Linked DNA regions of Homo sapiens: all the other regions are linked to region 2. Evidence: fine-mapped expression QTL. A gene starts in region 2. Each other region holds a variant in brackets. All regions are shown on one strand. Distances are from middle to middle. Region 1 overlaps PDGFRB (platelet derived growth factor receptor beta). Region 2 holds the start of CSF1R (colony stimulating factor 1 receptor). Region 3 overlaps PDGFRB (platelet derived growth factor receptor beta). Region 4 overlaps CSF1R (colony stimulating factor 1 receptor).

Region 1 (8,289 bases), 26 kb before region 2:
AACCTCCACCTCCCAGGTTCAAGCAATTCTCCTGCCTCAGCCTCCCGAGTAGCTGGAATTACAGGCATGCAGCACCACGCCTGGCTAATTTTGTATTTTTAGTAGAGTTGGGGTTTCTCCATGTTGAGACTGGTCTCAACCTCCTGACCTCAGGTGATCCGCCTGCCTCGGCCTCCCAAAGTGCTGGGATTACAGATGTGAGCCACCACGCCCGGCCAGTGTCTTCTTCTGTAAAATACAAACAGTAAAAGTACTTCTATTAGGCGGTCATTGCAAGGATTAAATGAGATAGCATACACCTTTAGGAGTGCAGAGGAGGGAGATGCTGGTGGGTGAGAAACGAGCTTTGGAGCCAGCTGACCCTGCTCCGAAGTTCCAGCTCCTGCACTTCCCTGCTGTGTGAAGTGGGGCAGTGATATAACCTCTCTGAGCCACACTTTCCTCACGGTGCAGGCCTTGCATAGTTTTCACAAGAGTTAAATGAGCCGGAGTGTGTGAAGCCTACGGTGCAGGGGTGGACACACCGAAGGCTCTTCATGACTGCTGCTGGAATCCTCCTGGGCTCCTTCCTAGCCCCTCACTCACTGCCTCTTTCCTCTAGCTCCACCCTGAATGAAGTCAACACCTCCTCAACCATCTCCTGTGACAGCCCCCTGGAGCCCCAGGACGAACCAGAGCCAGAGCCCCAGCTTGAGCTCCAGGTGGAGCCGGAGCCAGAGCTGGAACAGTTGCCGGATTCGGGGTGCCCTGCGCCTCGGGCGGAAGCAGAGGATAGCTTCCTGTAGGGGGCTGGCCCCTACCCTGCCCTGCCTGAAGCTCCCCCCCTGCCAGCACCCAGCATCTCCTGGCCTGGCCTGACCGGGCTTCCTGTCAGCCAGGCTGCCCTTATCAGCTGTCCCCTTCTGGAAGCTTTCTGCTCCTGACGTGTTGTGCCCCAAACCCTGGGGCTGGCTTAGGAGGCAAGAAAACTGCAGGGGCCGTGACCAGCCCTCTGCCTCCAGGGAGGCCAACTGACTCTGAGCCAGGGTTCCCCCAGGGAACTCAGTTTTCCCATATGTAAAATGGGAAAGTTAGGCTTGATGACCCAGAATCTAGGATTCTCTCCCTGGCTGACAGGTGGGGAGACCGAATCCCTCCCTGGGAAGATTCTTGGAGTTACTGAGGTGGTAAATTAACTTTTTTCTGTTCAGCCAGCTACCCCTCAAGGAATCATAGCTCTCTCCTCGCACTTTTATCCACCCAGGAGCTAGGGAAGAGACCCTAGCCTCCCTGGCTGCTGGCTGAGCTAGGGCCTAGCCTTGAGCAGTGTTGCCTCATCCAGAAGAAAGCCAGTCTCCTCCCTATGATGCCAGTCCCTGCGTTCCCTGGCCCGAGCTGGTCTGGGGCCATTAGGCAGCCTAATTAATGCTGGAGGCTGAGCCAAGTACAGGACACCCCCAGCCTGCAGCCCTTGCCCAGGGCACTTGGAGCACACGCAGCCATAGCAAGTGCCTGTGTCCCTGTCCTTCAGGCCCATCAGTCCTGGGGCTTTTTCTTTATCACCCTCAGTCTTAATCCATCCACCAGAGTCTAGAAGGCCAGACGGGCCCCGCATCTGTGATGAGAATGTAAATGTGCCAGTGTGGAGTGGCCACGTGTGTGTGCCAGTATATGGCCCTGGCTCTGCATTGGACCTGCTATGAGGCTTTGGAGGAATCCCTCACCCTCTCTGGGCCTCAGTTTCCCCTTCAAAAAATGAATAAGTCGGACTTATTAACTCTGAGTGCCTTGCCAGCACTAACATTCTAGAGTATTCCAGGTGGTTGCACATTTGTCCAGATGAAGCAAGGCCATATACCCTAAACTTCCATCCTGGGGGTCAGCTGGGCTCCTGGGAGATTCCAGATCACACATCACACTCTGGGGACTCAGGAACCATGCCCCTTCCCCAGGCCCCCAGCAAGTCTCAAGAACACAGCTGCACAGGCCTTGACTTAGAGTGACAGCCGGTGTCCTGGAAAGCCCCCAGCAGCTGCCCCAGGGACATGGGAAGACCACGGGACCTCTTTCACTACCCACGATGACCTCCGGGGGTATCCTGGGCAAAAGGGACAAAGAGGGCAAATGAGATCACCTCCTGCAGCCCACCACTCCAGCACCTGTGCCGAGGTCTGCGTCGAAGACAGAATGGACAGTGAGGACAGTTATGTCTTGTAAAAGACAAGAAGCTTCAGATGGGTACCCCAAGAAGGATGTGAGAGGTGGGCGCTTTGGAGGTTTGCCCCTCACCCACCAGCTGCCCCATCCCTGAGGCAGCGCTCCATGGGGGTATGGTTTTGTCACTGCCCAGACCTAGCAGTGACATCTCATTGTCCCCAGCCCAGTGGGCATTGGAGGTGCCAGGGGAGTCAGGGTTGTAGCCAAGACGCCCCCGCACGGGGAGGGTTGGGAAGGGGGTGCAGGAAGCTCAACCCCTCTGGGCACCAACCCTGCATTGCAGGTTGGCACCTTACTTCCCTGGGATCCCCAGAGTTGGTCCAAGGAGGGAGAGTGGGTTCTCAATACGGTACCAAAGATATAATCACCTAGGTTTACAAATATTTTTAGGACTCACGTTAACTCACATTTATACAGCAGAAATGCTATTTTGTATGCTGTTGAGTTTTTCTATCTGTGTACTTTTTTTTAAGGGAAAGATTTTAATATTAAACCTGGTGCTTCTCACTCACAGACTTTGTGGTCTCTCTCGGGTTTGGGTTCCTGCCCATAGGGAGTGTGGAGTGGGGCACATGAGGCTCACCCAGACGCAGACCCCCAGACAGGTCCCTTCAGCTCTGAGTCTCATTTCATTCATCTGTAAAGTGGGGATTTTCGCTCTCCCACCCCTCGCTGGAAGCTGGGGGGCCTAGACCTTGGGCTTGGTTTCCCAAGGTGGGAAGCGAGCAGGCTTTTCTGGCTCCACAGAGCCTGGCCTTGAGTCGGGCAGGAGGGTGTGGGGCTGCAGGGCTGCTCCAAGGCTCTGGTGCTGAGGCGTCTCACTGCCTCCACCATGTGCTTTGGCTTTGGCTATCAGCTGGGACACCCTCCCCTCCACTCCGCCCACAGGCCCGGATTGAGGCCGGCGTGCTCTGTGACAGGCAGCTGCTAGAGCCCAGATTCCAGGTCCAGGTGAGTCATGATCAGGCCCCAGGTAGGAGAAGGGCAGACAGAGTGTCCAAAAGCGTGAGAGCACGAAGTGAGGAGAAGGTGGAGAAGAGAGAAGAGGAAGAGGAAGAGGAAGAGAGGAAGCGGAGGGAACTGCGGCCAGGGTAAGGACAGGGGAGGGAATAGGGTGGCGACCAGGCTGTGGCTTTGAGGGCAGAG[A/G]GGTGTAGACCTGGCAGGACCCAGACCCCTCACGGCTGCAGCATCTCAGGGGTTGTGGGGCCGGCATGAGTCATAGGCTCTCCTGCCGAGCCCAGGCCTGTGGGACCCCGGCAGCAACACAGGGCCAGGGGCAATAGGGTTGCTGGGGGCAGGGGACAGAGTGCTAGGGCCCTCCCACCTGGGCCCAGAGTCCTGTACTTGGCTCACTTGAGGTGGACCAGATGTCAGCCTCAGATCCATCACTGTGTGTCCTTAGCCCCTCCCTTGCTCTCTCTGAGCTGGGGAAACGGCATCTTCATTTGAGTGGGTGCGGGAAGGACCTCATTTTGGAACCACAGGCCTCCCTGGACTGCCTCCAGGAGTCTGGGGCTGTGGCTTCAAGTGGGGAAAAGAATGGAGCCATGGGACAGCTCTGACTCACAGGCCCAGCCGCCAACTCAGGGGCAGCTGAGCCACACCAGGGAAAATACCCGACGGCTATAAGGCCTGGCCATACAAAGCCCACCATCCCAGGGATCCTGGCTTCAGAAAACACCCAGAGCCTGTGACTTCTCTTCTAGCTGTGGCAGGAGTTGAATGAGGTGATACCCGGATCTGCCTTGTAAAGAAAATAACTAGCCCACATTCCAGACAGGGATTATCTTTGCTGGTGCAAAAGCCTCTGTCTGGAGGTCAGAAGATCTCAGCTCCCTGTGTCTCAGGCCTGCTCCTTATGGGAACTTGAGTGGATTACACCACATCAGGCCTCAGTTTCCCCAGGGATAAATGGAGCTAGATGCCACACTAAGACAAAGGTTGATAAAAATCTGACTACCACTATCCAACAGTTACTATGCCCCAGGGCTGTCTGGTTGCTTCACACACATTAGCTCATTTTACCCTCCCAAAAGCCCAGTGACCTGAGTCCTACTATTATCCCATGTTACAGATGAGACACCAGTCCAAGCTGTTGTTGTTTTGTTTGTTTTTGTTTTTCTAGTTAAAGAAGTTTATTCAAGGGCAAAGTGTGAGGGTAGTCGTCAGGAAACAGGAAAACCAGAGAATGGTGATCAGTGCTTCCCTGTGTGGGGCAAGGTGAGGATGGTTTATATAGCCAGAAACGGGTGGGTAACACAATTACATTTTCCATACAAAGGTTAACGTAGAGCTACAAGATTTGATTGGCTACTATTGACTACACTTTAAGGGGGCTGCTTAACACTCATTTGTAAAGAGGTAATGATCACCAGCGTGTCATTTAGTCCAGGTTTGAATAAAGAATGGGGAGCCCGGTTAAAGTATAACATTCTCAACACAAAAATCAAGAGGCAATGGTCAGAGAGCAGTCCTGTGATGTGACTCAGTTTCCAGGGCTTAACTTTTCCCATTGGCATAATGAATTGGGGAGCTCCTGAAATTTTATTTTATTTTCACAATTTTGATTTGCATTCAAACCAAATCAAATGTGCATTCAGGGAGGTTTTGAAGTGACTTGCCCAAGATCATCTGGTCAGTGTGGCAGGGATGGGAGAGGAGCCCAGGTCAGACTGACTCCCAAGTCAGCACTCAGGGAGGTAAAGCACCCACCCAAATTTGCAGAGCTAGGGACTGGGGAAGCCTGCGACAAAACTCCTATCTTCTGTCTCCAGACCTTCTGGTACTGTGTTTCCCCAAGAGAAAGGATAGGAAAGGACTGGATGAGAAAGGAAAGCTAACATCATCTGAGAGCTAGAGAAAAATAATAAAAACTCATTTGTGGGAGGGCTTGGGCCTCTCAGGCCCCTGTGCAGAGGGCAGGCAGGGTCTGGGGTAACCACAGGTCAGCCCCTGCTGGGCTCCTGCCTCCCAGTCTCTCCCCTCAGGCGGGCCCAGGGAAGACGGGTGAGCTGGGATTTTCCTCCCAGACAGATGAGCCACTTGGACTGCACAATTCTTCCGCCACCCCACTCACGGCCGGGGTTCTTGTTCCTGGAAAAAGAGGGAAAGACTGAAAGGAGCTATTTCTGCCGGGGCCCTGACCTGCAGCTGATGAGGGTCTCACAGCTCCCATTCACGTCCCTTCTTCTTTGAATCAGGGCACCGTCTCTAACAGGCCCCTTTTATTTTAGTTATAATGTTCGGTTTTGCAATTAAAAATTATTTTTAATGGGCATCAGGATATTTCCTTCTGTCTTTGAATATGCCTTTTGTTTCTAATTTGTGCAACTATAACTTCACGTGAACCTCATGGATTCTGGCTTAGGCAAGTGGCTTCTATGTAATTAGCAGTGATTCCATCTTAATAAGGTCCTGTGATCTGACAAAAAAAAAAAAACTACTTGATACAAGTATTTATGTCATATATGCCTGTATTTAAAAATCCATTACCAAAATACATAATATAGAAAGAGAAGGTCTTCTTTGAGTATTTTTATATGTTAAATGCAGTAACATTTTAAATCTTTATTCTCTTTATTCAGCAACTCTGTGGTACAAATTTATCTTGTTGAAATTCTGCCTCTCACTATAAATAGTTTAGTTATATTTTTCAAAGTTGTTTTCTTTATATCCATACTAATATTTGTATCTGTACCTATCTACATAGAATATAGCTATAATCTTCAACAAAACTCCCATTTGTCATTGTGCAACTTTTTGTTTTTCACTTAACAATATATCATGGGCATACTCATAGGTCCATGGGAAATACAGATATTAATGCATTCATTTTGAGAGATGCACATAGTTTAAAAGCAAGCCTGTGCCAGACATTATTTAACCAATGTCAGAAATGCAAAATGCTTGTTCCCCAGTGCCACAAAGAAATAGCACTCGAACATAAATTTAATTTCCTCAGCAAGGCAATTTTTACTTTCTGCAGAGAGGGTGCTCCTGGCAGATGGAACAATGGCGAGAGCACACCTTGACAGGGGAGGGGAAGAGGTTCTTATTCCTGACACAGGCAGCCTCTACTGCTGCATTGTTCCCCTATTGGCTAGGGTTGGACCGCATAGTCTAAGCTAATTCCAATTGGCTATTTGAAAAAAAAGAGCAGGAGCATGAGCTGGAGTGCCGGGGTGAGTAGTTTGGTGGGAAAGGTGGATACGAACAGGTGGCTCAGGATGAGTCAGGATGGAGCAGGTGACTCAGGTCAAAGCAGGTGACCAGGGGAACAGATGTGAACTGATTAGGACTGGTGGGAAAGTTGTTTACTGAAACCAGAAGCAAGGGGGCGAAGAGATCCAGGAAGTTAAACTTTAAAATGGAGAATCAAAGAATAAGAGAGCTGAACATATTGACATACTGATTCTTTGAAGAGAAACTTGGGGTTCACTATATTTAACACCAATCTCCTACTGAGGGGCATTTGGACTATTTCCCATTTTTTAGAGTTATAAGTTATGCTACAATGGCCATTATTTATAAAATATGTTTGTTTTTGCATATTTAAGTATTTGTTTCCATAGCATAAATTCCTAGACATTGAGTTGTTGAGTAAAGAGAATAAACATTTAAAATGTCACTGAAGTCTAAAAATTCCCTTTTAAGTACATATAGTGCCCTGGGCGGCTGAGAAAATCAAACATACAAACAACAGAAACAACGTTATTTAATTCTAGCTAAGTACTCTGGACTGGTGGAGGAAGTATGGACCCTCTTTGGTTTATTGAGAAAAGTCATAAGTGGGTGACAGAGAAGAGTTGAAGACAGAAATGCGCCAAGCTGAAACATTCTCCTTGGCATAACCAGAAACACCCAGAGGACTTGGCAAGGCAGGAAGCTTCCCACAGTGCCATTCAGTGCTGCTGCAGCTCTACTAATCCATCATCCCACATCTAGACAGGGCATCCCACCCGTCGGGAAACCCAGCCTTCCCTCACCGCCCTGCTCTGCCCCAGTCCCTCATGGTGTAGGGTGTGCTCCTACCAGTGGTCCCATCGGATCCTCACGATTAGCCTGTGAGAGGAGCCTCCAGATGAGGAGGTTGAGGCTCAGAGCCATCAAGTGGCTTGGCTACAGTCACTGCAGGGAGGCTCTTGCCTTCCAGCCTCCCTGCTCCTACCTTCCCCGGGGGTGTCTAGGTCCAGTTCCAGATCTCAGAGTGGCCAGCAGGCTGAGCCCTGGGGTCAGGGGCCAGCTGCCTACACAGAATGTGGCTCCTGGAATTTCTTGGGTGGTGGGGGGGGGGCGGGCTTCTCCTTGGGATGGGGTTCTGGGGCCGCTCTGGGCCATGAAAGTTTCCCACAGCTTGGAAGAAAATCTGCCACCACTGTGTAGGGGTCTGGCGAGGGACCATTGGCCTGGGGCAGGGACCTGGGGACATCACAGAAGCCGAACTGTCTCCCTGTACCACCCCCTCCCAGCTGGCTCTTCCCTCACCCACATGTTCTTGGCATACAGGTCTGCCCTCTCCAGCAGCTCCCACCCCCCACCTGCTCAGGGCTCCTCGCCTTCTCCTGCAGGGCTTCACAGCAGGCTGCCCTTGCCCAGCTCCCCTTTGCAGATCCACAGTCTCTGGTTTTAGATTTTGTGGGTCTTCACTGCAGGAACTAGAAAAGTCACAAACATGGGGAAGTAACACAGTTTCTGGAAAATCACAGAATTCTAAGTCCCTTTTTTCCCCTCTGAAGAGACAAGAGGGAAGCTTCCACATCTGAAAATTTTTCTTTTTCATTCTTGATCTTCCTGAAGCATAGTGATGGTCTTGGTGTTCCCTTGCTCAAACATCTTCAGTGGCTCCCCGTGGCCCAGCAAAGTCGAGACTCCTTCATGGAATCTTTAAGGCCCTCCCTGATCTGATTCCAACCTCTCCTACTGCCTCTCCCACATCTGCCCTCCAAGGTCCATCCACCTTGTGTGGGCCACTAGCTTCCTGACCTCTGCCCCTTTTTTTGGTGCTACCGTCACCACCTAGAATGCCCAGTCTTTTATAGCTGAAGGTCAAAGTCTTGCTCAAGCTTCCAGCCCAGCAAAAGCTACTTTCTCCAA
Region 2 (8,289 bases):
TTTATTATGTCCAATTTTTCTTTGGTTGCTTGTGCTTTTAGAAACATATCTGAGAAATCATTTCCAATTCCAAGGTCATGAATATTACCTTTATGGTTTCTTTTAAGGTTTTAATAATTTTAGCTTTTATATTTAGGTCTTTAATTCATTTTGAGTTAATTTTTATATGTGATGTAAAATAAGGATTCAACTTCATTCTTCTGCATGTGACTATCTAGTTCTTTTAGCACCTATGTTGAAAAAACTGGTCATTCTCCATTGGATGGTCCTGCCACCCTTGTTGAATATCAGTTGTCCATGAATGTGAGAGTTTACTTCCTGACTCTCAATTTTATTCTATTGATCCATATAGTTATTCTTATGCTGATACCACACTATTTTGATTTCTGTAGTTTTATAGTAGGTTTTGAAATTGAAAAGTGTGACTCCTCCAAGATTGTTTTGCATATTCAATGTCCCTCGAGATTCCATATGAATTTGAGAATCAGCTTTTCCATTTCTGCAGAAAAAGGCTGTTGGGATTTTGATAGGGATTATATTGACCCTATAAATCAGTCTCACTTTGAGAGTACCGCTGTCTTATTAAATCCTCCAACTTATGAAAACAAGGTGGTTTTTCATTTATTAAGGTCTTCTAAATTTCTTTCAACAGTGTTTTGTAGTTTTCATTGTAAAGTCATGCATCTCCTTAGTTTATTCCAAAATATTTTATTTTTGATACTATTGCAAATTAAATTGTTTTCTTAATTTCCTTATTGGAGTATTATCAGTACTATAGAGTTACGTATGTTGATCTTGTATCCTGCAGGTTTGCTGAATTTGTATATTAACTCTAATAGTTGCTTTTTGTAGATCTTTTAGGATTTATCTATATATAGGATCATGTCATCTGTGAACAGAGATAGTTTTACTTCTTCTTTTTTAATTTGGATGCCTTCTGTTTCTTTTTCTTCCTGATTGCTCTGGCTAGGACTTCCAGTACTATGTTGAACAGAAGTGGCGAGAACAGGCATCTTTGTCTTGTTCCTGATGTAAAGGGACCAGCTCTCAGTCTTTTACCATTGAATTAGTTGTGCTTTTTCACATGTGCCCTTAATCACGTTGAGGCTGTTCCCTTTTATTGCTAGTTTGTTGGGTGGGTTTTGTTTTGTTTTGTTTTTAATGAAAGCATGTTGGGTTTTACAGTTACATCAAGTGACATGATCATATGAGGATTTTTTTCATTCTATTAATGTGATGTATTACCCTGATTTTCATGTGTTAAACCACTGTTGTATTTCTTGGACAAATCCCACTTCATCATGGTATATAATCATTTTAATATGCTGTTAGATTTGGTTTGCTGGTGGCTGGGTGCAGTGGCTCACGCCTGTAATCCCAACACTTTGGGAGGCCAAGATGGGCAGACTGCTTGAGGTCAGGAGTTCAAGACTAGCCTGGCCAACATGGTGAAACCCTGTCTCTACTAAAAATACAAAAATTAGCTGGGCATGGTGGCGCATGCCTGTAATCCCAGCTACTCGGGAGTTTGAGGCACGAGAATAGCTTGAACGCGGGAGGCAGAGGTTGCAGTGAGCCGAGATTGCTCCACTGCACTCCAGCCTGAGTGACAGAGTGAGACCCTGTCTCAAAAAAGAAAGAAAGAAAGAAAAAAAAAAAAAGATTTGGTTTGCTAGTACATTTTTGAAAATTTTTGCTTTCTATATTCATGCATTTGTATTGGTCTGTAGTTATCTTTTCTGGCAATGTCTTGGTCTAGCTTTGGTACCAGAAAAATGCTGGCTTCATAGAATGAGTTGAAAAGGATTGGTATTAATTCTTCTTTAAATGTTTGGGAGAATTCACCAGTGAAGCCATCTGGTCCTGGGCTTTGCTTTGTCGGGAGGTTTTTGATTACTGATTAAATTTCTTTTCTTGTTATAGGTTTATTTGGATTTTCTTTTTCTTCTTGAGTCAGCTTTGATTGACATTCATGATTGCTAAAGGTTCAAAACACTTTTCTGAAAAAGAAAGTACATATATACACTCATAAATATACATACAAACACACACATACACACCACACACACACCTGAGTACACGGGAATGATCATTTTCCTGGATCAATGTTATATCAGGATTTTTCAATTTCAAGAAGGAACTTTAGGCTGGGTATAGTGGCTCATACCTATAATCCCAGTACTTTGGGAAGCCAAGGTATGCGAATCACTTGAGCTCAGGGGTTTGAGACCAGCCTGGACAACATGGTGAAACCCCATGTCTACCAAAAATACAGAAATTTGCTAGGAATGGTGGCACATGCCCCTGTAGTCCCAACTACTCAGGAGGATGAGGTAGGAGGATGGCTTGAGTCCGGGAGGTGGAGGTTGCAGTGAGCCGAGATCACACTACTGCACTCCAGCCTGGGTGACAGAACCAAACCCTGTCTCAGAAAAAAAAAAAGAAAAAAAGAAGAAGAAATGACCATGTTCTTTAGAGATAAGAAGTAAAATACTAAGCGAATCAACTAAAAGAGGTAAAAGCAATTGCCTCCAGGAAAAGAGGGAGCAAAGGAATGCTATATATTTTAAGAATTATGCAGAACAATTAGATTCTTTGTAAAAATAAATAAACAATGTAAGTAACGCACAAAAGATAGTTTTATAACCAGACTGCTGGGATCCAAATCCTATCTCCACCATTTGGTAGCTGTTTGACTATGGACAAGCTTAAGGCATTTGATCTCTCTGAGCTTTAGTTTTCCCATCTGTGAAATGAGAATGACAATAGTACTTACCTACATAAAGTTTTGCAGTACTAAAGGAGACAGTGAATGTAAAAGGTTTGGCTAGTAAATGTCCTGTAAAAGGAAGCTTATTGCCAATATTATCAGGCTCTCCCAGACCAACCTGTATACAGGAAGAAAACAAACTCCGTTTCTCCTATAGTCTCACAACACAAAATACTTCTGACCCCAGATGTAGAGGATGGGGCATATTTCCCCATACACCAAGCAATCAACCAATTGTTCAGATTCTGCAGCAGACACGAATCTGGTGCCCTCCGATTCAATTTGAACACTATATTTACCTAGAGATAACGTCAGATCTCACAGCTTGAAGGCTTGAGCCAGGAGTTTGAGGCTGCAGTGAGCTATGATCGAGCCACAGAGCTCCAGCCTGGGCAACAGAGTGAAACTGCGTCTCTAAAATAATAATAATAAATTTTTAAAAGATATGCATTACTTTGGAGATTCCAAGGATTTTAGGAGTTGTAAGCCAGGACATCAGGGTAAAGAAAAAATATATATGTCACAATATCATGCAACCTAACTTCTCTTTGGGATCTGCCAGAGCCACCTGATCACTCTGAAGACCCTCATTTGTGCTACTGACTAACGGTCTGGCTGCTCTTGGACATGTCTCTTCTCCCAAGACCCCTTGAAGATGGCTTTAGAAGGGCCCCAAACTTAGCTAGCTCCCCCCAAGCTCAGGCTGGCCCTGCCCCAGACTGCGACCCCTCCCTCTTGGGTTCAAGGCTTTGTTTTCTTCTTAAAGACCCAAGATTTCCAAACTCTGTGGTTGCCTTGCCTAGCTAAAAGGGGAAGAAGAGGATCAGCCCAAGGAGGAGGAAGAGGAAAACAAGACAAACAGCCAGTGCAGAGGAGAGGAACGTGTGTCCAGTGTCCCGATCCCTGCGGAGCTAGTAGCTGAGAGCTCTGTGCCCTGGGCACCTTGCAGCCCTGCACCTGCCTGCCACTTCCCCACCGAGGCCATGGGCCCAGGAGTTCTGCTGCTCCTGCTGGTGGCCACAGCTTGGCATGGTAAGAGCAGAACGGGGGGTGGGGGACTTTGTTGGGGTGTGATGGAGAAGACCCCTGTGAAAGGATTCAGTCCTTGCCCCTCACTGGGTGTCCTCAGGCTGTTTTAGTCTCCCCAACACTGGACTGCAGGCTTGTGGGTATCTGCTTTGGAGAGGTAGTGGGGTGAAAAGAGATGGGTGTGGTGGAACTGGTCCACCTGGTGCTGTGGATCTGTCCCAGCTCTGCCAGCGACTCACTGTGTGTCCTGAGCAAGCCTCTGATACTCTTGAGGCTTCAGTGTCCACTTCTATTCAATTGCAGGTGTTGGGGGCAGGGGGACAGTGATAGACTAGACCAGAGCAGTGCTTTTCATACTTTCCTGTGCATACAAGTTACCTGAGGATTTTGTTACAATGCAGATTCAGACTCAGTCGGTCTCAGGTGCGACCTGAGATTCTGTATATCCAACACACTCCTGGGAGATGTGAGATGCCGGCACTGCTGGTCCAGACCTACACTGAGTTGGGAGGACCTGGAGAGCTCCTGATGGCTCTGGCAGCTCTGCCAGCCTGTGATTCGATGATTCTATGCAAGATCTGATTTGGAAGGGCCTGATAGGGGTGGTGGTTCTTCCTTGGGTGGCTTGTGTAAGGGGTCAGAGGGGAGAGACAAGAGGTTGGCCTCTCTGGCCCAGGGCTCAGGAGAGGGGAATTCGGGGTGAAATAGGTATAGGGCTAGAGGAGGGATTGGGAAGAGGCCAGTGAGGGTCTCCTGGACCAGAGCCCTCCCAGACACAGGCTGCCAAGTCTCAGGAGGTCCCCAGGCTGTAGCAGTTCTGCAGAATTTCCATCTGGGAGGGAACATGACTAGAGGTGAGGGGCTGCTGTGCTTGGCTTGTTGGCCCAACAAACACATTTCTATTGCCTGCTTATTCAAAGGGACCTTGGGGGAGGATGGGGATTGAAGGGGAGAAAGGACAGCCTCATACTGGCCTCTTCACAGAAGGACCCTAAGGCCGTGGCGCTTCTGGTCCCTGATGAGGAGGAGATGGCCCACTGACCATCCTTCTCTGGCCCAGGCAATCACACTGAGCTTGAGTATTTGGGTTTTTTTTTTTTTTTTCCTGAGACAGAGTCTCTCTCTGTCACCAGGCTGGAGTACAGTGGCACAATCTCGGCTCACTGCAACCTCCACCTCCCGGGTTCAAGTGTTTCTCCTGTCTCAGCCTCCCAAGCTGGGATTACAGGCATACACCATCATGACTGGCTAATTTTTGTATTTTTAGTAGAGATGGGATTTCACCATGTTGGCCAAGCTGGTCTCGAACTCCTGACCTCAGGTGATCCACCTGCCTTGGCCTCCCAAAGTGTTGGGATTACTGGTGTGAGTCACGGCGCCCGGCCTGGACTTCTTATTTTGCAATGTAACTTACATGCAGTAGAAAGCACAGGTTCTTAAGTTCAATGAGGTCTGACAAATGCACACACAGTGTACCCGCCACCCCCTTCATCTCAGAGAGTCCCACAGGTTTGATTTCACTGCCTTGTCCTATCCTTACACCCACAACCTGCCTGTGGGGCAAAAACGGAAAAGTATCTGAGCCAGGTCTCAATTTAATTTTATTTTTTTTATTGAGATGGAGTCTTGTGGCCAGGCATGGTGGCTCACACCTGTAATCCCAGCACTCTGGGAGGCCGAGGCGGGTGGATCACAAGATCAGGAGTTTCAGACCAGCCTCGCCAATATGGTGAAGCCCCCTCTCTACTAAAAAATACAAAAATTAGCCGGGTGTGGTGGTGGGTTCCTGTAGTTCCAGCTACTCAGGAGGCTGAGGTGGGAGAATCACTTGAACCCGGGAGGCAGAGGTTGCAGTGAGCTGAGATCATGCCACTGCACTCCAGCCTAGGCGACAGAGCAAGACTCCATCTCCTTCCTTTCTTTCTTCCTTCCTTCCTTCCTTCCTTCCTTCCTTCCTTCCTTCCTTCCTTCCTTCCTTCCTTCCTTCCTTCTTTCTTTCTTTCTTTCTTTCTTTCTTTCTTTCTTTCTTTCTTTCTTTTTTCTATCTTTTTGAGACCGAGTCTTGCTCTGTTGCCCAGGCTGGAGTGCAATGGCATGGATCTCGGCTCACTGCAACCTCCGCCTCCGGGGTTCAAGCAATTCTGCCACTCCTGAGTAGCTGTGATTACTGGTGCCTGCCACCACACCCAGCTAATTTTTTTATTTTTGGTAGAGACAGGGTTTTATCATGCTGGCCATGCTGGTCTCGAACTCCTGAACTCAAGCGATCCCCCTGCCTTGGCGTCCCAAAGTGCTGGGATTACAGGCATGAGCCACTGTGCCTGGCTTCAATCAATTTAGAAGTTTATTTTGCCAAGGTTAAGGACATGCTGGCGAGAAAAAAACATGGAGTCACAAAAACATTCTGTGGTCTGTGCCATTCTGGATGAATTCGAGGGCTTTAATATTTAAAGGGGAAAGTGGGCTGGAGGGGAAAAGGGGAGGTTGTGGTAATCCACATGTTGCAAAAGAAAAGCAGCAGGTAGGGGAACAGTCAATTATCTCGGTTCAGTAAATTGGCTCTTTACATAGGGAAAGTGAACATAGAGGAGCTGCCTGTGGGATATTTTACCTTTTATCTGTCGCTATCTGCTTAGGAATAAAAGGCAAGGCAGCTTCTTGCATGACTCAGTTTCCAGCTTGATTTTTCCTTTTGGCAGAGTGAATTAGGGTCCCAAGTTTTTATTTTCCCTTCACAGGGGCATGGTGTGTGGGAGGGGGGCCAGATGGTTTTCCAGGGTCCAGTCCCAAGAGAAAGAAGAGATGGGGAGGCTGGAAACCTAAGTTTTCAGCCCAACAGACCAATGATGAGTGGATGAGGGGCCACTGTGAGGAGACTGGGGATGGTATTGGAGGACCCTAGAGAGAGAGGGGGGCTCTCTCTTCATTACTGCGATGAGATCCTGGGCTGAAGAGGGGCTGTGTCCAGCCTTAGTGTGCAGTGTGTGTGTGTGTGTGTGTGTGTGTGTGTGTGTGTGTGTGTGTGTGTGTGTTGGGAGAGAAGAGTAGAGATTGGGGCACATTCTGGAAGTGATGAGGGAGGGGCTTCCAGGCAAGTGGGAGCTAGTGGAGAGGTGTGGGGCATGGGGAGAATTGGGGAGTGGAGATGAGAGGGGGGAAGAATGGACAGGCACAGAAGGGGACCTCAGTTAATGTTCATAAGCCCATGCCCCCACCCCGAGGAGGATGGGGGCCAAGCCGGCTTCCTTCCCTGCTAGCCAAGCCAGCAGGGGAAGTTGGCTGCGGAAGTTGCGGGTATCAGCCTTATCCTGCGTGAATACCTGGGACAATAGGATAGGACAAAATAGGGCAGACACCGCTCCCTGACCACATTTCCTGGAGGCCAAGGCAGGGTCTAGAGAGACAGGCTGGGGGAAGGGATGGGAGAAGCCCACTGTAAGGTGTGAGGCAGGTGTAAAAAAGGAACAAATGGAATCACAGAATCCAAGGTTAAAATCTTGAGCGATCAGAGTTGGCCCAGAAGGGACATTAGAAATGTAGCAATTAAAGCAGGTGCCCAGGGCAGGAGTAGTTCTATACATCATCTCACTCAACCTTCAGCTGAAGTTTTTGGGGTGGGAGCTGGGATTATTCCCATCAGACAGAAGAATAGCCTGAGGCTCAAAGAGGTTAAGAAACTAACCCAGCTGGTAAGGGAAGAACCAAGATCCAAACCCAAGTTGGTGTGAGCCCACACTCCAAGCTGTTTCCTGCTATAAAACCCCGGCCTGGGGGCCCTAGATTGCTGCAGCAGTGATAGGGCAGCCCCAGCTCTGTTGAGATTTGCTAAAAAGGCTGCTAGAAATGACACTTGTCCCTCTTCCTGGCAGTTGCACTGCATAGGAGGGCTACAACCCCAGGTGGCAGGCTTGGCAGTATTCACAATTCACTCAATCTCGTTTGCTGATCAGAGTCTTGGGGAGAAGGGATGCACATTCTGATGAATACAAAATCAAAACGTGAATTAAGCCATCCTGAAAGGACTTGAGAGAGGAAACCTTTCCAATTCTGGGCTCTATGGTGGGGCAGGGGGAATTTCCATTTCAAGGGGGTTTGCAGAGAACAATGGAGATACCCTGAATTCACCGAAAGCCCTCGGGGCTGGCCTGTCATTGTGCCCCCATCACTGGGAAGAGGAAGGGCCAGAGCTGAGGAGTTGGATGGCCAGGGTCAGCCAGTGGGTCAGCGTCAGAGCCCAGCCTCACAGCTGCCCCGCAAGTGGCACTCCCTCTCCCTGCCTGGAGAGAGGAGAGTGGCTAGGAGGCTGGGGAAGCAGAAGTGAGAACATCCCTGTAGAAGGGCCACAGGCTGAGCGGAAACCGGGGGCTGAGCCTGACGCCAACAATGTGTTTCCGCCCACACAGGCTGGGGGGCGCCTGGCAGCCCCTCGGAGGCTTGAATCAGCTCTCACTTCCCTCCTTTGCCCCTATTTTAGGCCCTGGAAAAATGCT
Region 3 (6,118 bases), 35 kb before region 2:
ATTTTCCTCAGCATTATGCAACCAAAATAAAATACAGAAGTATGTTGGGTACATAGACTTATTCACGTTTGCAATGATCGCTCATTTCAACATTTTCGTTTGTGTAGATATCTTCAAGTTCTCACTGATTGACTTTAAGTAAATGCATTGTAGTTGAATTTAACTACTAAAGTGATCGTTGTAAACAGTGGCCTTTATCTGCTTTCTATACTGGGCTCCAAAGTAAGCTTTAGTTTGAAAACATATCAATAAGAGCCAACACTGCGAGCTCGCCACGTGCCCAGCCAATAAAGACATCATCTCATTAATCCTCATGACAGTGCTTTGTGGTGGGTTTAATTAGCCCCACTTAACAGCTGGGGAAGGTAAGGCTCAGGGAGACTAAGTACCTTGCTCTCCACCACAGAGGCAGGAAAAGAATCCAGATTTGCAAGGCACTAAAGCCTCCTAGCCGTCATGCCAAAGTGTCTCTCCCACATCCAGCCCCTGATTAGCCTCATGGCCTTGAAGGGACGCCTGAGGCCTCCATAGGGACTGTCCCTGAGCCTGTCCCTCTGCAGGACCCATCTATATCATCACTGAGTACTGCCGCTACGGAGACCTGGTGGACTACCTGCACCGCAACAAACACACCTTCCTGCAGCACCACTCCGACAAGCGCCGCCCGCCCAGCGCGGAGCTCTACAGCAATGCTCTGCCCGTTGGGCTCCCCCTGCCCAGGTACCAGGAGGGAGGCCAGGGACTGAATCTTTGGGATACCTGAGGAGCACCGCTCCTTCCCCTCCTTTTGTCCAGGAGGGGAAGCTGAGGCTGTGACAGGGCAGGGGACAGAATCACTCCTGGAGCTAGGGCTGTTCCACAAGATGGTCCACCCCAGATGAGGGAATAACACTAATGCCAGGCCCTGTGCTGCTAAGCCCTCTACAGATGTGACATGCCATCCCTGTGTCGTGGGTGTTTGCCCTTCAGTCCAGGGCAGGCAGTGATGGAGGAAGGGGCAGAGGCTGTGGTGAGATGAGAGCCAAGCCTCCCAATTTGCACAGTGGTGCTCCAGGCTGTGTTCCTCTCTGCAGCCTCTACACATCAGCCTCCACACTGCCTCTCAGGGAGCTCAACTCCAGTCTTTGTCTTTTCCAAAAAGAACACTTCTTAGTTCTGTTGCTGATTACAAAAACAAAGACAAGAGTAGCTTCAGAAAAGCGTAAAAGACCTTAAAACCCACTCATGTCCTCTCCAATGTTTTGACATTCAGTCTCCCAGGAGCCAAAGGGCTTCTCCCATCTTTTTCCTGCCTATAGAGACAGATGTGTGTAGAGCCCCACAGCTCTTTGGGGAGCTGATGCTACAGGCATAGGTAGCGGGGTGAATCCTGGCTGCCTATGCTGGGTTGCAGTCAGGCACTCCCATGGCCAGGTGGCGCTGGGGAGGCCACAGGAAGGCGCCTCTGAACACACCCGTCTTGTGACCTTTGCCCTGGGGTGCTGTAATCGCCTCTGGGTGTGAGCTCTCTGGGTTCTAACTGTCATTTTGGTAGCCTCAGTGCCCAGCTTGGCCCAGCAGGTTGGTTGAAAAGTCTTGATCCACAGGCTTTCCTACTGGGATAGACTGAAGGAAGATGAGTGAGTGTGTGAGTGAGAGAAGAAATTCATGAGTGGCAAGGGGCAGGAGGGGAGGGGAAGGCAAAGCCTGCAGGCTCTCCTGTGATGCTCCTTTACCCCCAGCCATGTGTCCTTGACCGGGGAGAGCGACGGTGGCTACATGGACATGAGCAAGGACGAGTCGGTGGACTATGTGCCCATGCTGGACATGAAAGGAGACGTCAAATATGCAGACATCGAGTCCTCCAACTACATGGCCCCTTACGATAACTACGTTCCCTCTGGTGGGTGGACATAGTGACATAGTACCCCACATCCAAACAGGCTGATGCTCTTCACATGCCCAGCCTTGCCAAAAACCCTGAGAAGAAGGGAGCCTCGTGCCCATTTCATAGATGTAGAAATTGAGGCTAGCCACCTGGCCAAAACTGATCTGTAGTGGACCCCTAAACGGAAGCCCTGTTTATGGATCCGGAAACATGCGTAGAACCCTCAGGGAGGGAGAGAGCAGGGATATGGGAGGACCTGGCCTTTTGTCGTGGTAGGGAAAGTGATCTACTCAGCTTCAGCCCCAGGCTGGTCTAGTGTCCCTGAGAGGCAGGCAGGCAGGCCAGGCTGGGCAAAAGTGGCCCAAGGGCTAATGCCAAAAGGCCAATGAGGGCACTGATAAAGCAGGAGAACTTTGAGTTTGATATTAAGAAATCATTCTCCTTTTAGGGGAGACCTAGACGATCAGTAGCCACCTGTCTTGGACATTCAGTCTCCCAGGAGCCAAAGGGCAGGGGTCCTGTGGGCCAGAAGGAGATATAAGATAGCAGGTGACCCTCTGCTTCTCCTCTAGCCCCTGAGAGGACCTGCCGAGCAACTTTGATCAACGAGTCTCCAGTGCTAAGCTACATGGACCTCGTGGGCTTCAGCTACCAGGTGGCCAATGGCATGGAGTTTCTGGCCTCCAAGAACGTACGTGTGGTGTTGGTGGGGCAGAGTGGGGGCTGTGGGGAGGTGGGTCACCCAGCCAGCCAGCATCCTCCAAGAGCACACCAGGGTGGCCTCTCGCACATGGGCAGTGTTGTATTTTCCCAAAGCCCTTGACATGAAGGGTCTTTCCCCACAATTGTCCCCAAGGCCTCAGCTCCCCTCTCCCCAAACCCAGTGCGTCCACAGAGACCTGGCGGCTAGGAACGTGCTCATCTGTGAAGGCAAGCTGGTCAAGATCTGTGACTTTGGCCTGGCTCGAGACATCATGCGGGACTCGAATTACATCTCCAAAGGCAGCGTGAGTACCTTCCCTGGCCCCTGCAGGGCAGTCACAGTGCCTGTGACCGCAGGAACAGATTCCCTCCTGACCAGTGTGGCTGCAGCTCATAGGAAATCTGTGTGGGGCTCCTTGTGGCCTGCCCTGACAGCAGTGATGGGCTGTGCCTGCCCAGCTATGTGTGCAGGGACAGGATGGGGAGCCGCCCAGGAGTGCATGGAGCAAGTATAGCGGC[G/A]GGGAGGGCTGGCTATAATGGGTCCAGGGTGGGGGAAGGGGGAACAGGCCGAATGTGTTGTTCCAGTGGTGGTGGGCAGAGGAAGAAGCCCAGGTGACAGGGCAAGAAAGATGAGCAGGTCACATGCAGTAGCAGGGATTGGTCTGGTTAAAACGTGATCATCCTGCCTGTCTCTCATCTCCCCACTTTTCCGCAAACCCCAGATGGAGGGACGCTAGGCCCAGAGATCAAAGGCAGCCAGGATAAGAGCTTGGGGGGTGCCTTGACAAGTCCCTGGCTCCCACACTTCACTACTCAGACCCTGGGGCTTTTCCCCAGGGACAGGGGCTGCCTTGTCCCCAGCTAGTGAGAAAGGAAACAGCCTCTGGTCCTCTGACCAGCCCTGGGATGGACATGGGAACTGTGCTGCGCAGAGACCAGGGCCCTCACAGGGAATGGGACGGAGAAGTGGTTGTGGGTGGGAGCTGCCAGATACCCTCCTCCCATCCCAGGTGCAGAGTGGGGCTGAGGTCCTTCCTTGCACTCAGCACCTGTCCTGACCTCCCTACAGACCTTTTTGCCTTTAAAGTGGATGGCTCCGGAGAGCATCTTCAACAGCCTCTACACCACCCTGAGCGACGTGTGGTCCTTCGGGATCCTGCTCTGGGAGATCTTCACCTTGGGTATGCTTGCTTCCTCCTCCAGCCCTCAGCATCCTGGCCTGGTGTCTACCTCGACCACTCATGCCTCTGGCCTGGTGGGGCTATGGGACGAGCCCTGATACAGGGATCCTGGTTCAGGTCCCAGCTCTGCTACCTTCTCCCTGCTGTGTGATGTTAGCAAATTCTTTGCCCTCTCTGGGTCTCTTTATCTCCCTGTCTGAGCATTGACAGGTTTGAACAGTGACATCAGAAAGCCTGCTTGGCTCTCACATTCTGGCTGTCTATCCTGGGGAGGGTTGTGGTCTCTGTTCAGAGCCCATGAAGGAGCCCACAGTTCCAAATGCCAGGGGCACTGCCCCCTTACCCATACCAGGGCCAGCATGGCTCTCCTTGTCCTGTAGAAGAGGGTGCCCTGCCACTTTTCCACCCCTGAGCCTGTGTATCTCTTGTCTCTGCTCCCCAACAGGTGGCACCCCTTACCCAGAGCTGCCCATGAACGAGCAGTTCTACAATGCCATCAAACGGGGTTACCGCATGGCCCAGCCTGCCCATGCCTCCGACGAGATGTGAGTGGAGTCTCATGCATTTGGGAGGATTTTGTGCTGCAAACAATAGATATCCAACTCTACTGGCTTAAACCAAAGATGAGAGATTTGTTAGCTCAGAGATCTAGAAAGCCTTGGTGTAACTGGATCCAGCCATTCAAAGGATGGCATCAGGAACCTCTTGTTCTAGCCCTGAGCTCTGCTTTGCTCTGTGTGGCCTCATTTTCAGGCCAGCATTGCCCAAATGGCTACCAGCAGTGCCAGTCTCATGTCCTACTGCTTGCTCCATAGTGCCAGCAAAAGTCCCAGAGCTGACCTTCAAGGGCTCAGGTGGGGTCACATGCCATCAAGAACCAACCGTGGAAGCTGCAGGGCTGAAAACTGTTGGCGAAGGTTGGCTCCTGTGCTCACCCAGGCGTAGTCAACCTGTGGAACCATGTGGAATGGGGGCTCTGCGAGGGCCTCCCAAGGGAATATCCAGAGACAGGACCTCTGGATACACCCAGCCACCACTTCCCTCCAGCTCCTTTCCATGGCTCACCTTGTTCTGAGAGGCAGCAGCCTCCTGCTCCCCCAGCCCTGCCTTGTCCCCTGAACCCTGGGCCAGAGGCCCTGACCCTTCTCCCTATCCCCAGCTATGAGATCATGCAGAAGTGCTGGGAAGAGAAGTTTGAGATTCGGCCCCCCTTCTCCCAGCTGGTGCTGCTTCTCGAGAGACTGTTGGGCGAAGGTTACAAAAAGGTATGTTGAGGCAGGGTAGGGGTGGAGCACGGAGAGCTCTGGTGCAGAAGTCAGACACCGAGTACAAGGCTCTGCGTGATGGGCTGGCATTTAGGGGACCACCCTTTGTCCTCTCTGGGCCTCAGTTTCCCTGCTGGTTCTAGGAGGGGATGGGCTGGCGCTGTGAGTTTATTTTAGCAGCAGAGAGCTTTATGAAATGGAATCCTACATGGAAGCTGATCGATTAGATGCAGGGAGGGGGCCTAGAGCACTGTCTGTCCTGCTGCCTCCCTCAGGCCTTTACCTCCATACCGAACCGTGGGGCTCCTTCAGAAGTGTGAATAACCCCAGGTTACATGACCATGAACCGCCTGACCACTTGGATCCTGTCACAGGATTGTCCAAGGCCCAAAGAGCCAGTAGGGCCCTGAAACCCTGCCCCGTCCAACAACACGGGTCCAAGTGAGGAGGAAATACACATGGCCTTTGACACAGAGGCAGCTCCTTCTTTGGGTCCATTTCTCACCCCCACTGCCCCCCGGGGATGGTCCCAGGGACCTGGGAGATGGAGTAAGGTCATCACCACTTCACAGCAAAGGAAACTGAGGCCCTGAAGAAGGACGCTGAGGCAGCATGAGAGCCTGTGCCTGTCTGCTCTGAAGTGGGGGAAGAGTTAGAGTCCTGGGTGCTGGTCTGATAACTGCCCCTCCCTGGGTGGTCCTGAGCTCACCATGCCTTGTAAGATTCTATGTGAGGTAGGAGGGCAGCTCAACCATGTGGCTTGGGCAAATCCCTTTCCCCTCTGAGCAGCGGGGGTCTTATTTATACAAAGGGGGATGGGCTCGGTTAGAAGATCCCTGAAGGCATTTCTGGCCTGACCATCCCTGTTTCTTTGGTTCTCCCTGCCCCGGGAGCAGAAGTACCAGCAGGTGGATGAGGAGTTTCTGAGGAGTGACCACCCAGCCATCCTTCGGTCCCAGGCCCGCTTGCCTGGGTTCCATGGCCTCCGATCTCCCCTGGACACCAGCTCCGTCCTCTATACTGCCGTGCAGCCCAATGAGGGTGACAACGACTATATCATCCCCCTGCCTGACCCCAAACCCGAGGTTGCTGACGAGGGCCCA
Region 4 (6,546 bases), 22 kb after region 2:
TAGCCAAAGCCACAATTTAGTGCATGTTGCGTATAGTGTGCTTCCTGTCACTGTCTGCTCAGTATATGACAGTGATTTGAGGGGCATTTTTCTATAGCATGTTACCTACATCATCTCATTTAATGCCCTCAGCAACCACTGTATGCAGCTAGCATTAGTCTGTTTTACAGAGTTGTAAACTGAGGTTCTGAGAGGTTGGGACAGTTGCCCTTGTCTACAGCTGGTCAAAGGCAGAGTCTGGTTTTTAACCCTGAAGGAGGACTCACTCCAAAGCATGTCCCAATCATTATGTGAAACATTGACTCATCTTATTTTACCCTCACAAGAAGCTGGAGGCAGGAAGTATACTAGTCAGTATCTTACCCATCAGGAAGCTGAGGCTCAGCAAGGTTAAAAAAAAAAACCCCAAGGGGCTGAGGGATAGGGTTGGCACTGGGCCCCAGGGGCTTCTGTCCCTAGAGCCCATGGCCTCCACTGCCTGCCTGCCCACACAAAGACCATGTGCAATGTGATCAGAAGCTGAGAGGACCAGGCCAGAGGGCTGTGGGAGTTCAGAGGTGGACGGACTTTTCAGGCTGGTGGGTAAGGGAGACTGCCTGGAGGAGGTGGCTTGGCATTGGTGGGACGGGCTTTGGAGGATGAGGATGCAGCAGGGGAGATGACACTAAGGGAAAGGGTACCTCTGGGGGAGAGGGCAGAGTGTGCAGAGGTGCAGGTGAGGGAAGGACCAGGGTGGGGTTGGGGGTCTGAAGGGTTGGACCCCACCCTGTCGGTCCAAGGCCATCAGTGGGTTTGAACAAGGGAGTGGTGTGATCAAGGACTGAATGACCCATCTTGTGTCCCCTTGGCTACCTTTTCTTCCCCACACCCCCTTGGGGCTTTTGTGAGAAGAGGGCTTGAAGTGGGCAGGGTGGGAAGGATGTTGGGGGAGCCCCAGGGGCACATGGATCGGGATCTCTACTCCTGCCAGCACTCAGCATGAGAAGGCTGCTCTGAGGGCAGCCCCGGTCAATACCTCCGGATCTAGGTCCAGCTCTGACACTGTTTTGCCATGTAACCTCAGCTGACTCGCTGTCCTCTCTGGGCCTTAGTTTCCCCTCTTATACCATGGGTCTGGGTGTTCTCTAACAGCCCCTCCTCCTCTGACATGCCAAGAGCCCACTGGTGGTCTAGTTTAAGCACCAGAAACTTGGACTTCAGTGAATCTGGGTCCAAATCCTGCCTCTGCCAAGCTCTGGCTATGGGATGATGAGAAAGTTGGTGTGTCTGAGTCTCTTCTCCATTTGTAAAATGGGATCATTAACAGCCTGTTGTGAGGGATTCCGTACCACAACGCACATAGAGGACTGAGCGGGGTGCTGGACGAGACAGTCTCTGTGATGGGAGCTGCACACTCTTGTCCCAGGAGGAAGTTCGTTGGGGAACCAGAGTTAGCTCATGCCTCTTGGGATGGTGGAAGGAGGGGGAGGTCTGAGGTCGGGCATCATCTCCTTGACTACACACCCAAAGCGGTTGTTTGGCCCAGCCCACCCACCTCCAGGGACAGGACCTTACTCACTCTCGGGGCCACCTGTTCCTTCTCTGAGCAGCTCCAATGTTTGCAAAGTTCTTCCTTACATGGAACTGAAAACTGCCTCGCAGTGCCCACAGAGCTGCCAGGACAGTCATGCAGAGATTCCAGAGAAGAGCCTAGGGCCCCCTGCGGCCCTTTCTGCCTTGGGCTGGCCAGCCCCCTTGGCTGTGGTTTAGGAACTCTGTATCCCCTCTCCACGGGACCATTTTTGGAACATGTCACCTCCACACTTCCTGTCCAGGAAATTCAGCTGCCCCTGGAGCCCATGCAAGGCTGCGAGAAGACTTGCAGCTACCCTCCTCCCCTACACCCATTCACAGACCCTTTAGCTCCAGGCCGAGGTGTCCACCCATGGGAGCGGAGGGGGCAGGATGGTCATGCCCGTGCTAAGTGCCTGCCCTCCCATCCTCCTCTGCCTTGCCCCATGAGGTTCGGAGCCTTGCCCCTTCACTGGGGACTCAGCCCAGCCTCTCCTCATTGCCCAGGCCTGGGGAAAGAAGTGGCCTGTCTGTGGGGAGTGTTTGTTCTGCCTCAGGGCTGAATCATCACCTTTCTGTCCCCCAGAGTGACCACAAGGGGGGCCGTGGGGGAAGAGAAAAGGGCAGGAGTCAGCAGGCTCCCCTGGAGGAGGAGGCGCACAGGGAAATGGCTGAGGCAGCAGGGAAGGGAGGGTCCAGGGAGGCTGCTGGAAAGACTACGATTCTGGGGGCTGGAACTGAGCTCTGAGGAGCAACAGGAGGGTCCCCAAAGATTCCACTGGGAATTGTTCAGATCTCCACCTTCCTGGGATGGAGAACATCCACTCACCCAGAACCAGCAGGCCTAGATGGGGAGGGGACCGGGACTTTGTCTCCATGCCCCCTTTGGTGGGGAGGATGGGAGGAAGGGAAGAAGTCAGGGGGTGGGCCTGGGGCTTAGGCCCATTGCAAGGAATGAATGGGGTGATGTGCTTCAAGCATCTAGCCCAGCGCCCCACTCCCAGGAAGAGCTCAGGAAGAACCCGCTGCCATCATGACAATTACGTCCACCCTTCTCAGGGAGCCTCGCCCATCCCCACCTCTTGATCTCTCACTCATAGTTCTTTGGAAGAGAGGCTGCCTCTGGGTAGACGCCCATGAGCCCTTTCCAGGGATGGCACAGGTGCCCTGGGAGGTTTACATGCCCAGCAGGGGCAGGGGAGGGTTCCTGAGGCAGGCAGAAGGCAGCTTGGTCCGCTTCCAGAAATTAGGAGCCTAGGATTCAGAAATCTGAGAATCCAGCCAAACCTCCATCCTCCTTGATCCCCTCCCTTTCAACAGTGCCCCCTGCCCAGCTGGGGGCAGGGAGGGGCTGACTCAGCCCAGCTGCAGAGGGACAGAGGAACAAGAAGTGGTAAGAAAAAACAGTCTTAGCCACAGAGGCTCCTAGAGATGGAAGTGGCCAGGAGAGGCTGAAGAATCCCCTCCTTGCCTTGTTGCTGTCTTTTGGGCTGGGAAGGCACCCACGGGCAGGATTTGGATCCTCAGAGGCTTGGGAAGTTCTTCTCCCTGGGTCCCGTTTCAGACTCTCTCCCAAGCTATAACGCAGAGGCTCTGAAGTTCACCTGCAGTCCGCCCTTCCGAATCAGAGCCTGGAAGTTAGTTCCTTCTCATTTCTAATTGCAGTCTTTTCTCTCTAACTACCAGCTAGAAGTTCTTCCTGATGGTTAGCTGGAAGCTTTCTCCCTGTCTCTCTCTTTAAAAATGTCCACATTTTATTTTTGATTCAGGGGATAGACGTACAGGTTTGTTGCATGCGTATGTTTCGTGATGCTGAGCTTTGGAATATGGATCCCATCACCTGCTACTGAGCATAGCTCCCATAGTTTTTCAACCCTCGCCCGCTTCCACCCTCCCTGCTCTAGTAGCCCCCAGTGTCTGTTGGTGCCATCTTTATGCCCATGCACACTCAATATTTAGCTCCCACTTATAAGTGAGAACATGCGGTATGTAGGTTTTCTGTTTCGGTGTTAATTTGCTTAGGATAATGGCCTTCAGCTGCACCACGTTGCTGCAAAGGACATGACTGGAATCTTCTCTCTCAACCAGGACTTGCAGCTAAAGGCCAGCCTCCTCCCTAGCACCGGTCCACACTTCCTTTAAGTTTCTAGCTCGGGTGCCCAGGGAAGGAGCCCAGCTGCAGGCACAGCCAAGCTTGTCCCATCCCCAAGGCCTGGCCGGAAAGAGTTGCTCTGCTGACCCAGGGCCTCAGTGTCCTCCACCGCCCCAGCCCAGCTTCCACTTTCCCCCTCAACTTGGTCTTCCATCAGCATTTCTTGTGGGCAACCCTTAGCATGGTACTCCCC[C/G]TCAGCAGCTGACCCCTGGGCAAGAAACAGGGGCAGCCATTCCTCCTCCCCACATCCCAGGGCTTGCCTCCCCTGGCTGGGTGGTAACAGCATGGAGAGCCTAAGGAAGGAAATCAGGTCTTTCCAAAGGTGCTGGTCCTCCAGAATCTATCTAGTGGGCAGCGTCTCTCTTTCTCTCTCAAAAAGGTAAAGTCAAGGCTGGGTGCGATGGCTCACGCCTATAATCCCAGCACTTTGAGAGGCCAAGGCAGAAGGATTGCTTGAGCCCAGGAGTTTGAGCCTAGTGAGCTATGATCGTGCCACTGCACTCCGGCATGAGTGAAGGAGCAAGACTCTGTCTCAAAAAAAAAAAGTCAGATGGCGACTCACCTGTGTCAAACTCTCAGGGTCTCTCACTGCCCGGCCAGGCATGGTAGCTCATGCCTGTAATCCCAGCACTTTGAGAGACCGAGGCAGGCAAACTGCTTGAGCTCACGAGTTCAAGACCAGCCTAGGCTGCGACAAAGCCCCGTCTCTACAAAAATTAGCCAGGTGTGGTGCCACATGCTTGTAGTCCCGGCTGCTTGGGAGACTGAGGTGGGAGGATTGCTTGAACCTCGGGGGTCGAGGCTGTAGTGAGCCAAGACTGCCCCCACTGCATGCCAGTCTGGGGGACAGAGATCCTGTCTTGGAAAAAAAAAAATCCCAAAAGGGAACCCACTCACCTTATCATAGCCCTCAAGGCCTTCCTGTTTCTGGAATCTGCCCCCCACTTCCCTCAAGCCATGATGGCTGCCTTCCTATAGCTCAAACTTGCCAGGATCATTCCCATGTCAAGCATACAGCATTTCCATGCACTGTTCCTGGAAAATTCTTCCTCTGATGGTCACATGGTGGGCTCTTTAGGGGCCTTCCCTGACTTATCTTACTTTATTTTCTTCATAGCACCACTTGAGAATCTCCTAGATACATGTTTATTTGCGTTTAATGCCTCTCTCAGCCACTAGAATGCAAACTCCATGGAGGGGCAGGGACTTTGTCCTGTTCAACTCTGAATCAGCGGTGCCTGACACAAATAGATGTTCAAGAAAGTATGTGGATGGGCTACTATTATTCAGCCTTAAAAAGGAAGGGAATTCTGACCTGTGCTGCAGCATGAATGAACCTTGAAGACATTATGCTGGGTGAAATAAGGCAATCTCAATAGACACATGCTGTGTGAGTCCACTGAGGTGCAGTGCCTAGAGCAGTGCAATTCACAGAGACAGCAGAATCATGGTTGCCAGGGGCTGGAGGAGGGAAAGGGGAGTTGCTTTTTAACAGGAACAGAATTTCAGTTTTGCAAGATGAAAAGAGCTCTGGAAACTGGTTGCACAAGGTAGAATGTAATTTACTTAATACTACTGAACCATACACTTAAAAATGGTTGAAATGGTAAATTTCATGTATGTTTTATCACAATTAAAATATATATATATATTTGGATGGGAGGTTGGGTGGGTGGATGGATGGGTAGATGGATGGACAGATGAACGGATGGATAAGATCTCAAGTTCCACCCTCCCTCCTGGCTCAGGAATTACCAGATTATCAGAGATATCAGGGCCCTCAGAGGTTGTCTTGTCCAAGGTCTTCAATACACAAATAGTGAAACAGGCTTGGAGAAGGGAAGGTCACACAACAAGGCAGAGTCAAGCAGGAACATGCTCTCAGTGCTATGTTCATGAGACGACCTCTCTCAGCCCAGAGCAGGCCTTGCCCTGCCTTCTCCCACTGGGCGCCTTGGGACTGCCCACACCCCTGCTCTTGGGGGTCAGAAACAAGGTCCAGGAACTGCCTGCCAGCCCCGACTGCCACGTGCTCCCTTCCTCTTCTGCAGAAGCCCAAGTACCAGGTCCGCTGGAAGATCATCGAGAGCTATGAGGGCAACAGTTATACTTTCATCGACCCCACGCAGCTGCCTTACAACGAGAAGTGGGAGTTCCCCCGGAACAACCTGCAGTTTGGTGAGATGGCAGCTCATCACTCCACAGCTTCCTATCACAGGGCCTGTGGGGGTTGCAGGGAGCCCATGGGCCCTTGGACAGAGGCCCTTTGGTGCCCAGGGACTTAAGGGACCTGTGTGCGTGGCAGGTAAGACCCTCGGAGCTGGAGCCTTTGGGAAGGTGGTGGAGGCCACGGCCTTTGGTCTGGGCAAGGAGGATGCTGTCCTGAAGGTGGCTGTGAAGATGCTGAAGTGTGAGTGAGGGGAGGGGATGAGGGAAGGGATGGGGGGTGGTAGATGCTGGGGGTGGGCTGGCCCTGGTGTCACAAGAGGCATCACACACATTTCAACCTGTTGAAGCCTGGGGGACAGAGCTCAGGGGTGAGGACTTGGGTTTTCTTGTGAGCTCCAGGCACCCTCTGACTCCCGGCTCCAAGAAGGTCTAGGTCACCCTTTAGTTGTGAAGGGGCTCCTGACTGAGCTCCAAAAAGTCTGGGGGTGCAGAAAGGCCACCTATGGCCATGGCCTGGCCACAGTTTGGCTTCCTGTCACCTGAAGACCAGCTCAGTGACAGGCTCATCCCTCCTCTCTCTCTCTCTGCCATCTGTGTGTCTGCATTTTTCCTTCTCCTTCTTTTGGCTTCTGGTCACTCCGGGTCTTGGGGTATGCCCTGCTTTCTCCCCTGGG

What was found. PIP is the estimated chance that this variant, and not a neighbour inherited with it, causes the effect. A credible set is the group of variants that fine-mapping cannot tell apart.
Region 1: its variant is the best candidate, but not a certain one, in a credible set for the expression of CSF1R in whole blood (TOPMed, PIP 0.78).
Region 3: its variant is the best candidate, but not a certain one, in a credible set for the expression of CSF1R in whole blood (INTERVAL, PIP 0.78).
Region 4: its variant is the best candidate, but not a certain one, in a credible set for the expression of CSF1R in breast (GTEx, PIP 0.90).

What each region holds. Positions count from the first base shown.
Region 1 is chr5:150,108,259-150,116,547 of GRCh38, reverse strand. It overlaps PDGFRB (platelet derived growth factor receptor beta), which reads left to right. Exons shown (of 23, transcript NM_002609.4): 23 at 602-2,709. The coding sequence ends at 785. It also overlaps a transcript of CSF1R not described here. Among named protein-coding and RNA genes, the nearest start is that of CSF1R, 26 kb to the right of the region's middle. RefSeq lists a promoter at 2,500-3,278, enhancers at 3,190-3,939, 4,650-5,162 and a silencer at 6,208-6,502. The variant A/G (reference allele first, on the strand shown) is at 3,343.
Region 2 is chr5:150,081,892-150,090,180 of GRCh38, reverse strand. CSF1R (colony stimulating factor 1 receptor) reads left to right here and starts at 3,627. Exons shown (of 21, transcript NM_001288705.3): 1 at 3,627-3,802. The coding sequence starts at 3,754. RefSeq lists enhancers at 3,540-3,569, 8,227-8,289, 7,896-8,289 and a promoter at 3,322-3,754.
Region 3 is chr5:150,117,644-150,123,761 of GRCh38, reverse strand. It overlaps PDGFRB (platelet derived growth factor receptor beta), which reads left to right. Exons shown (of 23, transcript NM_002609.4): 15 at 561-720; 16 at 1,722-1,882; 17 at 2,440-2,558; 18 at 2,752-2,874; 19 at 3,639-3,750; 20 at 4,196-4,295; 21 at 4,910-5,015; 22 at 5,912-6,118. Among named protein-coding and RNA genes, the nearest start is that of CSF1R, 34 kb to the right of the region's middle. RefSeq lists enhancers at 2,447-3,354, 5,015-5,602. The variant G/A (reference allele first, on the strand shown) is at 3,089.
Region 4 is chr5:150,061,058-150,067,603 of GRCh38, reverse strand. CSF1R (colony stimulating factor 1 receptor) reads left to right here. Exons shown (of 21, transcript NM_001288705.3): 11 at 5,755-5,881; 12 at 6,009-6,113. Among named protein-coding and RNA genes, the nearest start is that of CSF1R, 22 kb to the left of the region's middle. RefSeq lists an enhancer at 594-643 and a silencer at 2,594-2,769. The variant C/G (reference allele first, on the strand shown) is at 3,897.